Regions from separate parts of the Homo sapiens genome. Here region 2 is reported to be linked to region 1. The links are microRNA targets in miRTarBase. Many come from high-throughput screens and were not tested one by one. Region 1 holds a microRNA gene; the other region holds the end of a gene's coding sequence.
Evidence for each region. The annotated mature microRNA hsa-miR-4478 reads GAGGCUGAGCUGAGGAG and lies in region 1 at 3,563-3,579, opposite strand. An mRNA with a match to its seed (bases 2 to 7 or 8) in the 3' UTR can be bound and repressed. Matches are read on the target gene's strand: a 7mer-m8 pairs with bases 2 to 8, a 7mer-A1 pairs with bases 2 to 7 and ends in A, and an 8mer does both.

Region 2: the mRNA of MCF2L2 is a reported target of hsa-miR-4478. Seed matches in the 3' UTR shown: 7mer-m8 at 5,533-5,539.

The regions. Positions count from the first base shown.
Region 1 is chr9:122,116,585-122,124,306 of GRCh38, forward strand. It overlaps MIR4478 (microRNA 4478), which reads right to left and starts at 3,583; the gene lies at 3,498-3,583.
Region 2 is chr3:183,172,834-183,180,173 of GRCh38, forward strand. It overlaps MCF2L2 (MCF.2 cell line derived transforming sequence-like 2), which reads right to left. Exons shown (of 30, transcript NM_015078.4): 28 at 7,238-7,326; 29 at 6,744-6,859; 30 at 5,208-6,670. The coding sequence ends at 6,547. It also overlaps the pseudogene SNORD3P4. Among named protein-coding and RNA genes, the nearest start is that of LAMP3, 14 kb to the left of the region's middle. RefSeq lists a silencer at 6,428-6,517.

The DNA of each region.
Region 1 (7,722 bases):
GGACTTACGCTGAGGATTTGTGACTACCCCAGTCCTGGCCTTCCAGAAGCTGGCACTCAGCCCCAGACAGACAGTGCTGGCCTTGCCCAGGACTCACCCTGGAGGGAGATGACAAGGGCGGTAGAGTGCAAGGTTGGAGCCCCTAGCTTGGGTTCAAACCCTGATTATGTCACTTTTTGGTTGCGTTACCTTAGATCAGGGCTTCTCAACGTCAACACCAGGACATTCTGGGTTAGAAACATCTGTGCTGCAGGGGTGTCCCGTGCACGGGAGGGTATTCAGCAGCATCCCTGCAGCACCCCTGAGATGTGACAACCACAATGTCTCCAGACATTGACAAATGGCCCCCCAGGAGTACAATCACCCTTGTTGAGAACCACTGCCTTGGACAAGTCGCTTATTTTTCTTTGACCTCAGTTTCTCCATCAGTAAAATGGGAATTAATTGTGATAAGGACAAAAGCTAACTTGCAGTGTTTACTGAATGTGAGAAATTGTTCTAAGTGCTACACATGTTTTAAGTTTAAATTCATTGTATCATTGCTGCTGCCCTAAAGGTGGGTATTATTCTCCCCATATTCTGGGGAAGGAAATAAAGACACTCAGAAGCTGAGTAATTCTCCAAGGTCTGACAGCTAAGAAGGCTGCTGTATTAGTCCGTTCTCACGCTGCTATAAAGGACTGCCCGAGACCGGGTAATTTATAAAGGAAAGAGGTTTAATTGACTCACAGTTCAGCATGGCTGGGGAGGCCTCAGGAAACTTACAACGATGATGGAAGGGGAAGCAAACACATCCTTCTTCACATGATGGCAGGAAGGAGAAGTGCTGAGCACAAGGTGGGAAAGTCCCTCCCATCAGATCTCGTGAGAACTCACTCACTATCATGAGAACAGCATGAGGGTAACCACCCCCGTGATTAAATTACCTCCCACCGGGCCCCTCCCACAACATGTGGGGATTATGGGAACTACAATTCAAGATGAGATTTGGTGGGGACACACCCAAACCATATCAGCCGCCTAGCTCAAACCTTAGGCCCATAACCTTAATGGCTGGCCTCCAGGGCTTAAAAAGTTCAGGACTGAATGAGGCAATGCATGTAATGTGCACTGTATCTGGAATTATCTCAGTGCTCAATAAATGGTATTATTAGTCTCAACAAACCTCTGCAACCCAAATGTTGGCCCTTTATGCAGATACAACAGGTTGTATCTCCCGTTGTTTCTGGGTCAGCTAATGGTTATGGCAGTCAGGCACAGTGGCTGATGCCTGTAATCCCAGAGCTTTGGGAGGCCAAGGGTGGAGGACCACTTGAGGCCAGGAGTTCGAGACCAGCCTGGGCAACATAGTGAGACCCCTGTCTCAAAAAAAAAAAAAAAAAAAACCATGGCTATTGAATGACTAGTCTGTGCCAGTTATCACATTTAATCCCATGAGAAATTTCCCCGCCCAGGTTGCAGAGGAGAAAAGAATGACTGAGGGAGGGGAAGGGACTGGCCCAGAGTCACACTGCCAGGCACAAGGCCAGCACCAGGCCATGGGGCTGTCTGCTATAGCACGACCCTCAGCGGGACCTGGGTGCCCAATGTCAGGCTCTCTCTGCCTCTGCAAGAAATGTCAGGGAGAAGATGACCAAGTGGTATTGGACAGAATGGCAGTGATGCTGAGGAAGAAACCAAAGGTGAGGGCCCTCTCCCTTTGTATTAAACGAAACTTTCCAGGCTTAGGCCCTGCAGCCTGTACGGTGTCAAAAAACAATTGTCATAAGTTGTCGACACTTGGAAACATTTAAACTTATGAGGTTTCACATTAAAATCTGTATTACTGCCTTCCTTTACAAATCTGGAAGAAGGAATGCATCTGTATAGGTGGGTAAGAGCAGGGGCTCTGGAGTCAGACTACCTGGGTTCCAATCCTAACTCTGCCACTAGCTTGCTGTGTGTCCTTGGCTGAGTTACTTAACCTCTCTGTGCTCTGCTTCCTTCGTCTGCATAACGGGGATAATAACAGCACTTTCACCAAGATTGTCATGGAGATTAAATAAGAAAGTGCCTATACAGCACTTCTTTAGAACAGCACCAGGCACAAAAGAAGCATGCAAAATGTTAGCTGGTGTTATTTGTAACTTTTTTTTTTTTTTTGAGACAGGGTCTTTCTCTGTCACCCAGACTGGAGTGCAGTGGCACAATCATGGCTCACTGCAGCCTTGACCTCCTGAGCTCAAGTGATCCTCCTGCCTCAGCCTCCCAAGTAGCTGGAACTACAGGCTTGAGCCACCGTGCCTGGCCGTTTGTATCATTATTTACAGTGTTTAGTATTAGGCAGTGCTGCCCCTGGATTCTGTCCCAGGCAGAGCTGAGTAATAGCTGCCCCTTTAGATGAAGTGTGACCTCTTCCATTGTCCACAGCCCACAACCCCAGGGACCAAGGCTGAGGTCCTAAAAAAGCCAACACTGTGTAGGGGCCTGACTCCTGGCTGCTATGTGACTTTGGACAGTCACTCCCTCTGTCTGGGCCAGTGTCCTCACTTATAAACCAGAGGCACAGGGCCCTGAAAACATTATGCTAAGTGAAAGAAGCCAGACACGGAAGGCCACATAATGTCTAATTCCATTCCTACCAAATGCCCAGAATACGAAAATCCATGGAGACGAACAGTGAATTAGTGGTTGCAGAGGCTGACGGAATGGGGAGTGACATCTCATGGCCACAGGGTTTCTTGTGGGGTCACAAAAATGTTCTGGAGCGCCATAGTGGAACCGGTTGCACAACCTTATGAACACAGTCATGCGTTACTTAATGATGGGGATACGACCGGGCACAGTGGCTCATGCCTGTAATCCCAGCACTTTGGAAGGCCGAGGTGGGCGGATCACCTGAGGTCAGTAGTTCGAGATGAGCCTGGCCAACATAGCGAAACCCCATCTCTACTAAAAATACAAAAATTAGCTGGGTGTGGTGGCACGTGATTGTAATCCCAGCTGCTCAGGAAGCTGAGGCAGAAGAATTGTTTGAACCCGGGAGGCGGAGGTTGCAGTGAGCCGAGATCGTGCCACTGCACTCCAGCCTGGACGACAGAGTGAGACTCCATCTCAAAAAAAAAAAAAAAAAAAAGATGGGGATACATTCTGAGAAATGTGTCACCGGGCAATTTTGGTGGGCAAACTTACATGAACCTAGATGGTGTAGCCTACTGCACAACTAGGCCACATGGCATAGCCTATTGCTCCTACACTATAAACCTGTACAGCATGGTACTGTGCTGAATACTGTCAGCAATTGTAATGCAATGCTAAGTATGTGTGTATCTAAATATATCTGGATGGTTTCCCTGCAGGTAACAGCTGGCTCTGATGTCCTAAGGAGACCCCAGCGCCATGACAAACCCAGGGATCTCTGATTGCTCCCAGCCTGAGTCGCTTCATATCCTACATGGGAGGCTGAATCCACAATCCCTCCTGCAGACGTACCCTCTCCTCTCCCTTGTCCCTGCAGAGGCCAGGGCTGCAGGGGATGAGGCTCGCCCCTAGTACTGCATGACCCTGTCTACAGGTTTGGAGGCTCCTCAGCTCAGCCTCGGCCCCTGGGCTCTTGTCTTGCTAAGCCCAGAGACCCAGCTCCCACTGGGCTTGGTGGCTGCTTGAAGTGGATCATGCCTTGCACCTCCCCCTCCTCTCCAGAATCTTCTATGTGTGCCGAGACTCCCAGAACAGGAGACATTTGGCTACATCACCCAAGATGGTGCCCACTTTCCATTGCCATGGGTCTAAGAAAAGGTGAAGTTCCCTCCCCCAGCCCTTCCCTGCCTGCTGAGGGATAGGACATGTGTCCCCATTTGCAGTGGATGCAGGGAGGGCTGGAGAAATGCTCTGTGCTCTGAGTAAGGCATGTTCCCCTGTAAGTGTGCCCATGACAGCTTGTGTATGCATATGTGCATGTATGGATATGCATGTTTGTTGGCAGGGATCTGTGCACATTTGTAGGTCTGCCTTTCTACCCGTCTTGTGTTCTGGACTGTGCACATATCTGCCTTGACAGACTTATCAATGTTCACACACTGGCTACACCTGTACCTTGTCTATATGTGTGGCTGCGTGCGTGAGTCTGCTGGAGCTCAGCACTTGTGTGGCTGAGCTGTTTACACCTGTCTGAATATGAGGGGTGTGTTCACGTGTCCCCTGAACGCACACTAGTGCATGTGTCCCTTCTGTGTGTGTCAAGGCAGGCCGCACGGCCATGAGGACCATAGCCCAGGCCTTGGAAGTTTTCCACGAGCTTAGACTCCAGCACCCACTGCACATGGCAAATGGCACCAGTGACCTGCCGTGGAAGGCACAGATGCCAGAGGGCACCACTACTCCAGCAGGAGCAACACCAACAAGGCCAGCACCAGCCCCACCCATGGCCTCCAGAGATCCTGGAGCCTGGAGGGCCCAGACGAGCTGGCAGCTCCAGGCTCCAGGCTCCTCAAGGTCCCACAGACAGGCCAAAATCCAGACAGCGGGAAGGGACAGCACAAGCCGGAGCCTGGGGACCAGAGGCAGTTTGGGGGTGCTCCATGGGGCCACACCCCAAGCCTGCTCTACATATTCTTCTAGGGCTCCAGAAGTGGGGAAAACCACAGGTGGGGAAGGCTGCCCCACAGGTGTACAGGTACAGGTGTGAGGCTGACATAGGTGGGTGAAGGATCAGAATCAAGAAGAGGAGATACTTCCTGCCTGATGAGTCTCTAGCTGTCCCCTCCAGGGCGCAAAGCCCCAGCACCTCCTTCTCTCCTGTCTTTGGGGCACCCAGCCATGGCCCCAGCCCCTTGGGCTCCAGCAGCAGCAGCAGATACAGGAGGCTGAGGCTCAAGTGAGAGTGGCTAGAGGGCAAGTGAGCTGAGCAGGTGGAGGCCAGACCACCCTTTCCCATCCCAGCTGGCCCGGGCCACAGGTGCCACTCGATGAGGCCTCAGCTAAGCACCGAGACAGTTGCCCTCAGACAGCCCACGCCAGCCAGCTCCCTGCACCAACCGGAAGCTCCTGCGGCACCTGGCACCACCCGAGGCCCGCCTGGGAAAGAGAGGGCCTGAGAGCCAACTCAGCCTGGCACCCGGGAGGCGATGGTCTGGTGAGACTTGGGAAGCTGAAGGTCCTGCCCCAGGTGGAACTCAGAAAGATAAAGAAATGGCAGCTCAGAGATAGGAGGGGACTTGCATAGGCTGCCTGTCCAGGCAGCGGCCAAGCTCTTGTGACTGTAGAGTCCTTTATTACCCTTTCCCACTCCCAAGCCAAAATGCTGGTACCAGGACCCAACTGAGTCAGATCCATCTTCAGTTTCCCCTAGACACCCACCCAGTGGGCTCCAAGAGGCCAAATCCCGGGGACTGGACCCCTAGGACAAGTCGGTGACCCAGGGTTGCCTGCCCTTCTTTGCCCCAATACCAGGACTGCCCTGGGCCTATAACATGCTTTCCTGAATTCTGGATAGGTCTCCCTACCATAGCTCAGAGAGGGTTGCCCACTTGCCCAAGATCACACAGCCGGGGAGCTGGCACCGGACAACTGGCCCGTGGGTGTTCTCCTGTGTCACTGTCCTCGGCTGCCCTGGGCTGGCCCAGCTTCTGAGGGGAAGGGGCCCTCCACAGAGGTACTGTCTCCCCAGGCCACCTCTTGCTCCTGCCCTGGCTTCAGCTTCCCTGCCACCCACCAGCAGTGATCAACTAAAGCCACACTTTGTCAGACATGGAATGAGGCTCCAACCCTGACTCCTTGTCCCCAGCTGAGGCCACCAGCAGCCACCAGCACACCAGCCCCTCTGAAGATCTGATGGCGGCCCAGAGCCAGGAATCAACTGTCGTGACCCTCACATTGCCCCTCCCACCAACTGGCACCAAAGGACTGCAGACCCACAGGGCAGCACTGGGAGGCATCCCAGGATAGGGTGGGGCTGCCTCAGAGACCTGAGGACCAGCAGTGCTGAGGAGACTCTCATGCTCTTTCCCTCCTTGTCTCGATGAGCCCTGAGGCCCAAAGAGGGCACAGGTGCTGACATGTCCCAGAGAGGGCAAACAGTGGCAGGACAAGGAGCCTGCACAAAGAGCCAGAGCTCTGCCCTGGGGGCAGACAGAAGAGGCAGAGGCAGCCCCACCCCCACCCCAGTACTCCCCGTAAGAGGAAGCAGAGGCCACCTTCACAGACGGTCGCTGCAGGCAGGTTTAACCCAAGCTCATGGGATGGTCTGTCCTCACTCAGCTAACCTTGCACACGCCTGTAGGCCTCCTCGGGCTAGCATTCTGTGTTCTCACCACATGCTATACCTGTGCCATTGACCTTACTCACTTAACACACTTATTGTGGTCAGATGGGGGGTGTCACATTGAGCTGGGAAGGCGGTAAGGGGATGCAGAATGAAGGGGATCCCAACAGGGTCCAAGAGAATATGATGTCCAACTGCCCCATTTTGCGGAGAAAGAAACTGAGGCCCAGAGAGCCCAAGGACGCATCACAGATGAAAACAGCATCTGGAAGCCGACTCCTTACAGAAGCCTGAGCCCACGCAGGACCTGCTTTTATGCTGCCCCCTTGTGGTCAGAGGAGGGACTGCCACCCAGAGGCGCCCCCTGCCTTGAGTCCACTGAAATATTTGGTCTCCTTTTCTCCTTCTGAGGTCAGCTCGCCTCAACCCTACCCCAGGGTCTTACTCCCTCCTTGTTTGTAGGTCCGGAGGATCCTCAAGGGCAAAGGGCACCCGAGTGTCCCCACCAAAGGCTGGCCCCCTTGAGCAGAGATACGTGGAGAGGTGACCAGCTTTGCTTTACTGAGCCTGCCTGGCAGCCCCACAGCCATATCCGGGCCCCCTCTTCAGTCCTCATCTCCGTGCCTCCTCTTGTTTTCTACATGACTAATCATGTCCTCTTTCTTGGAACCCCCTCCTTCCTTGGCCCCAGTGATGCCACACTCTCCTGGGTTTCCTCCAGTCTTCCTGGGTGTTCCTTCTCTCTTTTGTGGGCATCTTGTTCCCCTCGGTCCCAGCCTGTTGGTGCCCCCTGAGCCTCTTGTTTTTGCCTGGATTTGGAGCTGGGCCACCTAGCCGGCAAGCAGGTAGACACCTCAGGGCACCATCAGACCAGGAGCATCAAACAAGGAAGATGAGGAGGAAAATGTGTTTCTGTGAACCCATGGATGTGATGATTGCAAACGTTTTTTGTTTTTATTTTTATTTTTGTTTTTTGAGATGGAGTCTCACTCTGTTGCTCAGGCTGGAGTGTAGTGGTGTGATCTCGGCTCACTGCAACCTCTCCCTCCCAGGTTCAAGCAATTCTCCTGCCTCAGCCCCCCGAGTAGCTAGAATTACAGGCATGCGCCACTATGCTCGGCTAACTTTTTGTATTTTTAGTACAGACGGGGTTTCACCATGTTGGCCAGGCTGGTCTCGAACTCTTGACCTCAGGTAATCTGCCCATCTTGGCCTCCCAAAATGCTGGGATTACAGGTGTGAGCCACCGTGCCAGTCCAAGAGTTTTGTAAGGCATGTAAGTGTTACATTTTATAATTTAATTTAGACTCCTTTTTGACTCATGGGGGTGAGGTGAACACCATATCTTTGGTGCTTAGGGCTTCCAAGGACCTTTCCTGGGTGGCCTCAGCTGTGCACTGCCTTCAACCACCTGTCAGTAACCTTCCAACTCCCAAGTGAATATCTCCAGGCCTGATTTCAACTGCCTCCTGGATACCTCT
Region 2 (7,340 bases), not on the chromosome of region 1:
GAGGTTGCAGTGAGCCAAGATCATGCCACTGCACTCCAGCCTGGCAACAGAGCGAGACTTCATTCAAAAAAAAAAAAAGCTCTTACACTCTTCTGCATATTCTGCAAAGTATACTCTGGGAAGGCTGGTTTAGAGGATCTCTAACTTTTCTAATATTTCATAATGCATGGCTGATGTTTAACATGAACTCAGACTCCCATCAGATTTTACAGATCTGGGTCTGCTTTTAGTTCTAATGCTTCAGCCAGGGCACTTTAATCTGAGGTCACAGCATTCCCAATTGTCAGCAGTATTTTGAAATCTAAGTTCCTCTGGTGGACAACAGGCAACATCATATAGCCACGGAGGATCTGAACAACTTCTAAGTCTGAGGGATTTTATCTGGTGGTTTTGGATTCTTTTCCATTTATACTTAAACAAGGTGACACAAATGTCACTCACAGAAAAGCCACTCTTTTTTCCCCTGTTTTTAAGAAGTCTAAAAATGCACAACTATTTCCTGAATGAGCAGTGTGTCCAGGTGTAGAATAGGGAATGTCGTGTCCACTGGGAACAGACGGTGTACCTGGCACAATTTTATGAGAATTATCCCATGATTCCTGTCCCACCCTGCAGCCCACCATGGGCTCAGTGGGGAGTCTGAGTCTCTGAGCCCCAAAGGGTAGCTTTTTCCCAGACGACACCAGCAAGCAGAGCAGCAGCTTGGGGCTTTGACAAGGAGGCTGGAGTGAAAGGTCATATTGGACCATCCTGGATCACTGGAGGACAATACCCCAGGAACCTCCAGCAATGACTGGTATTGGAATGACTCCCCTGGTCACCCACCTGTGGCAAGACATTTGCAAACAGGGTCTTCCTATGAGGCTTGTGAGGTTTGGCCAATTTGCATTCTGCTAGAATTATTAAGTATGGACATCCTCATAGATCCAGAAAAGGGCCGAGATCCAAAGGATTGAGAATGCTTTGGGGGGTGTTTCCATAGTGAGTGGCTGGCTATTCAACAGTCAAATGTTTGAGAGGATACAAGTGATGTGTTTCCTGAGGCAAGTGGTCAGAACCCAACAGACTCTTCTGTTCAGCTAAGATGAGAGACCATCTGAAGTTCTTACATGTTCTCACAGAGAAATGGATTCTCATAGGGAAATGGATATATTGTGATAGACACTGTAAGCAGAGAAGTTGACTGAGAAACACACACACACACACACACACACACACACACGTCAAGACTGAATGCATAGATGTGTATTATAAAAAGTGTAAAAATACACCACCATTGTAACAGATTGTGTAGGACTATATTTTCTTTTTTTTTAATTTATTATTATTATACTTTAAGTTTTAGGGTACATGTGCACAATGTGCAGGTTAGTTACATATGTATACATGTGCCATGCTGGTGTGCTGCACCCATTAACTCGTCATTTAGCATTAGGTATATCTCCTAATGCTATCCCTCCCCCCTTCCCCCACCCCACAACAGTCCCCAGAATGGGATGTTCCCCTTCCTGTGTCCATGTGTTCTCATTGTTCAATTCCCACCTATGAGTGAGAATATGTGGTGTTTTGTTTTTTGTCCTTGCAATAGTTTACTGAGAATGATGATTTCCAATTTCATCCATGTCCCTACAAAGGACATGAACTCACCATTTTTTATGGCTGCATAGTATTCCATGGTGTATATGTGCCACATTTTCTTAATCCAGTCTATCATTGTTGGACATTTGGGTTGGTTCCAAGTCTTTGCTATTGTGAATAGTGCCACAATAAACATACGTGTGCATGTGTCTTTATAGCAGCATGATTTATAGTCCTTTGGGTATATACCCAGTAATGGGATGGCTGGGTCAAATGGTATTTCTAGTTCTAGATCCCTGAGGAATCGCCACACTGACTTCCACAATGGTTGAACTAGTTTACAGTCCCACCAACAGTGTAAAAGTGTTCCTATTTCTCCACATCCTCTCCAGCACCTGTTGTTTCCTGACTTTTTAATGATTGCCATTCTAACTGGTGTGAGATGGTATCTCACTGTGGTTTTGATTTGCATTTCTCTGATGGCCAGTGATGATGAGCATTTTTTCATGTGTTTTTTGGCTGCATCAGTGCTCTACACGTTCAGAGAAACTTCTCTAGTGACGAACTATAGAAATGATCCCTGAAAGTATAGTCTTAGGACTATATTTTCTTTTGACTTGGGAGGCATGTTTATTGCTGTTAATGCTGCAAAGGGCTCTACGTGCTTTAAAAAATCCCAATCTGTTGCATTCATAAGCCTGGGTTGGATCTAAAGCAGCCTCCCACTTTTGGAAAGGCATCCCCACGACCTTTCCATGGTTGCTGAATGCAGCTGGAGGCAGTCACAGCTGGTGATGTCCGGAGCCCATTCCCCACTGTGCTGGTCTGCAGAACTTCTGCATGCCATTCCCACAAGCAGGTCTCTGCCCTGCTCTCCTCCACCTCCCTTGTCAGAGGAAGTCTGCACTTCACAGCTTTCTGGTCTCAACCCTCCTCCATCCCTACAGATGTGTAAGCAGCAGGAATCAAAAGGTGAAGGAGAGGGGGCAACTCACCTCCGATGGACACGTGAAAAGTGGGAGATGGATAAAATCAAGAAGGAGCTTAAGATATCCAGAAATGTAAACTGTGTTTGGAAAAGTAAGGTCAGGAGAAGCATGGGACTCCTGAGGTTGCTCCCTACTATCTTGCAGACTTGCTGCAGGACCAAATGAAGCAGGATCTGTCAAGCACCAGGGCCAGCTCTTAAGCTTAGTGCCTTTCTGAACCCTGTGACCCAGCAGCCTCCATCAACTCGTCCTACCTGCCATGCACAGCTCCTCTGTGCCCCTGTACCTGAGCTCATGCTATTCCCTCTGCCAGGATGCCCTTCTCCTTCTCCACCAGGAGAAGAACACTTGCCAGTAAGACCCAGTTCTAATGTCACCCCTTCCTGACGGTATCAGGAAGAGTCAGTGATGGTGTTTTATGCTCCCAGAGAATTTGCCACATTGTGTTGTGATTATTTTTCCACATCTGTCTCCCCCACTGGAATGAGAGCCTCACTCATCTTCATACCTCCCTGGTCTCTACCTGGTGCCAGAACCATCCTCAGGGCAGGGGAATGCTCAGGAAATAGATATTGAATAAAATAAGTGTATCCATCCATCCATCCATCCATCCTTCCATCCATCCAGACATATATACATATGTAAACATTCTGATGGTCAAATGGAACAATGTGGGCTGAAGAATAATGCAGGTAGAAGAACCTAAGATTACAGATTCTTGATTTGGGAGGAACTTTATTTTATTGTGCAAACAGTCTACAAATTTGAAACATACTCTATCAAGAAAGACACTGTTGTTAGGAAAGGGCGTGGGAGAGGGTGGCCCCACAAAACAGTGTAAAGTTCTAAAGAATTTGAGAGGAACACTCTGCGGGACCCTGTTCCAAGGGCATCTTTCTAAGAGTCTGTCCCTTAGGCTCTGCCCCTTTTTGGCCACGTTGTCAAAGGCCTTCTTTATGAACGAAGTGAGACACATTATTTTTGTTTTCTTGAATTCTAAAGTGATTGTCTTGAGTTCCCTGGGGGAGACTCCTGGGAGGTGTGGCCCACTCTATTCCAGAAACAAACCAGGAGACTGAAGACTCATCCCAATCCCATATCCCATGAAAATGTGAAATCAAATCACCCCTGACAATTCCAAAACTAACGGAATCCTAACATAACTCTATGTAACTCTAAAGCTGAGTGTGCTGGTAATTAAGCTTCCAGCCCACCCTTCCCAGCTCTGGGGTGCAGGGTCACCATGGGCTCCTTCCTGTGTGCACCCCACCCCACCCCCACTGTCAGCATCCTGTCTCCACCCTGAGAGTGACAGCTGGTTCCAGTAGCGGGAGTTGGTTCCAGCTTGCCATTTTCCTAGCACTCCTATAACCAGCCTGCTGATGCCCATTCAGAGACAGCAGCACGGGCTGGCCATGTCCCCTCTCCAGAATTCTGCGTCCAGCTCCTGGACCTTGAGCTCTGAGCCCTTGGGCCACGTGTACAATTAATAGTGCCTCCTCCTCAGAGGACTAACCCCCAGCCCTAGGGCCACCTTCATATTTCTGAGTTTTGATATTTTCAACCTCTTTTCTTTGTTGTATGAGTCCTTGGGCTGGGAGCTTGCAGTCAAAATCTTCATGATATCTCATTATCACTACTTTTTTTTAAATCTCTACTAGCTGGATAACAATTATTTATATTAAATTCTCTCTTGAAATAACTGATACAGTGTCTCTTGATTGAAACTTGACTAGTAGACTAAGAATTCTAACTCTAAATAATTCTGAGGGCCGGGTGTGGTGGCTCACACCTGTAATCCCAGCACTTTGGGAGGCCAACGCGAATGGATCACCTGAGGTCAGGAGTTGGAGACCAGCCTGGCAAACATGGCGAAACCCGGTCAGGAGATCCAGACCATCCTGGCTAACATGGTGAAACCTCATCTTTACTTAAAAAAAAAAAAAAATACAAAACAAAATTAGCCAGGCGTGGTGGCAGATGCCTGTAGTCCCAGCTATTCAGGAGGCTGAGACAGGAGAATAGCGTGAACCCGGGAGGTGGAGCTTGCAGTGAGCCGAGATTGCACCACTGCACTCCAGCCTGGGTGACAGAGAGAGACTCCGTCTCAACAACAACAACAACAAATTAGCCGGGCATGGTGGCAGGTGCCTGTAATCTCAACTACTTGGGAGGCTGAGGTAGGAGAATTGCTTGAACCCGGGAGGCGGAGGTTGCAGTGAGCCAAGATTGCGGCACTTCACTCCAGCCTGGGTGACAAGAGCAAAACTCCATCTCAAAAAAAAAAAAAAAGAAAAAAAAATCTGACAATTAAATAAAGAACAGAAAAAAAATTTGAATGGCAAATACAAAGCTGAAAAGAAATAACTGAGAATAAATAACTCTGAAAATAGCTCAAAAACTAAATACCTCAAAAACTCTTTAAAAATTCAGAAAATATAATGTTCAAATATGAAGTAATGCTGAAAATGAAATAACTAAAAACCAAGTAACTTGAAAAAAAGAACATAAAAATAAACAACTCAAATATAAAATAACTGAAAATAAATACCTGTGAACATAAGCAACTCGAAAACCAGATAACTAGGGGAAACCCTTCATTAAAACATTTCACTCTGAAAATAAATAACTTGACAGTAGTTCATGAACTTCCAGTGAGTGTTTAATAGTCAAATAAGTTACTGTAAAAATAAATAACTCAAAAACTCCAATAAGATAAAGTGAAATAACTATGAAGGTAAATAACTCAGATAATAATTGTAAAGATAATTAAAAATAAATTCCGGCTGGGCGCGGTGGCTCACGCCTGTAATCCCAGCACTTTGGGAGGCCGAGGCAGGGGGATCACGAGGTCAGGAGATCGAGACCATCCTGGCTAACACGGGGAAACCCCGTCTCTACTAAAAATCCAAATAAAAAATTAGCCGGGCGTGGTGGCGGGCGCCTGTAGTCCCAGCTACTCAGGAGGCTGAGGCAGGAGAATGGCGTGAACCCGGGAGGCGGTTTGCAGTGAGCCGAGATCACACCACTGCACTCCAGCCTGGGCGACAGAGCGAGACTCCGTCTCGAAAAATAAATAAATAAATAAATAAATAAATTCCAAGCAAATTAATTTGAACATCTGTAACTCCTAAAACAAAACAACTACATATAAATAACTGAAAATGAACAACTAAATAACTTTGAAAATAAAGTAACTATAAACCAGTAACTGAAACTATAAAATTAAATAACCAGAAAGCTACAAAGAAATGAAAATCAACTAATAAAACTAAAAATAAAATACAACTGAAACTAACAAAACTCATTTAAAAACTAATAAATCGATACATAAAATACCTCAGAAAGTAACTTGGAACGAACTCTCTCTACAACGAAGCAATCTTGGCACTAACACGAACACCCCATGAACGCTCGCAGGGATGCTGGGAGGCGGACCGGGAGCTCCCAGTCTGCGGCCCCCGCCGGGTTGGAGCGGCTCCGGCTCCTCCAAGGCTCGGGCTAAGCGGCTCTCAACCGATTCCCACCCCGCCCTGGAGAAATGCGGGCGTGTCTGCAGGCATTTTTGATTGTCACGATTTGGGGGCGGGGTGGAGGATGGGGTGGCGCATTCCTGGCACCTAGTGGGTAGAGGCCAGGGGTGCTACTAAACATCCTACCGTGGGAGCACAGAGAAGCCCACGCAGCAAAGAATTGCCCGGCTCCGAATATCGAAGTGCGCGGTCGAGAAGGCGTGGGCTGCGGGCTCTGCTCGCCTCTGCAGGCGCCTTAGAGCAGCTCCGAGGTCCCCCGTGCGGAGCTAGGCGCGCACCCAGGACACCCCTCGGGCTCCTCGGAGGAGGCCCTGGTTGTCCCCTTTCTGCCGCCGCCGAGGCTCCGGCTGCTTTCTGCGTAGCTGGGCAGGGCCCGGGCCCCCACACCGCCTCTCCCGGGAATGCGGGCGCTCTGGAGCCGAGGAGCGGGGGCGTCCGCAGGGAGGTCAGCTCTCCTGGGCGGAGGTCCTCGGGCGCAGCGCCCTCGCCTGGAAACCAGCCGTCGCCCCCGCAGGAGCCAGCCGGCCCGTGGACGCCCCAGCGCGCTCCTCCTCGGTGCTGCGGGTCGCCCTGCAATTCCGAGAAGAAAGTCAGAGACGCCGTGGCCCAAAGAGGCGCTTAGTCTTTCCTCGCTCACACTCACGTTTCCTCCTCATCGCGTTCTTCTTTTTCTCCCTGGCTGCTTTCTCCCCTCTCCAGGAAAGCAGATTTGGAGGAACAGGTTTCGTGACTGTCGTCCGACTGGAAAAGGCCCGCGAGCTGGAAGGGAGGGGACGGGTGCACCCTCAGAGTTATTGCTGGAGGCTGTGGCCAGACCGGGCAAGGTGGTGACTCCCGCTGGCAGGCTGAGGCCCACCCCAGCCCTCCCACCTGGGCCACGGGGCTCTCAGCGGGAGCCCCAGTTATGACCGGACACCAGCGCACCGCCAAGGAGACAGCCACGTGGGGACATGCTGGACTAGGAGGGTCAGAGCCAGTTTGAGGGTCTGGTGACCTCGGCTCCCTGGCTTAACCAGGTCCTTATGGGTGAGAATCCTGAGGAGGGGGAGAGGGATGGAGGCTAGGGACAGGAGGCAGGAGGAGCTGATGAATAGGAAGGAGGGAAGAAGATGAAAGAAACAAAAGGGAAGTAATTACACTCAGAGCACTGCTCTCCTTTTCCATGTCTTCTGCGCCTTCACAGTCTTCAAAGGTGTCCATGGAGCTAAACTCCCTGCTGGAGCAGCCTTAGGGAGAGAAA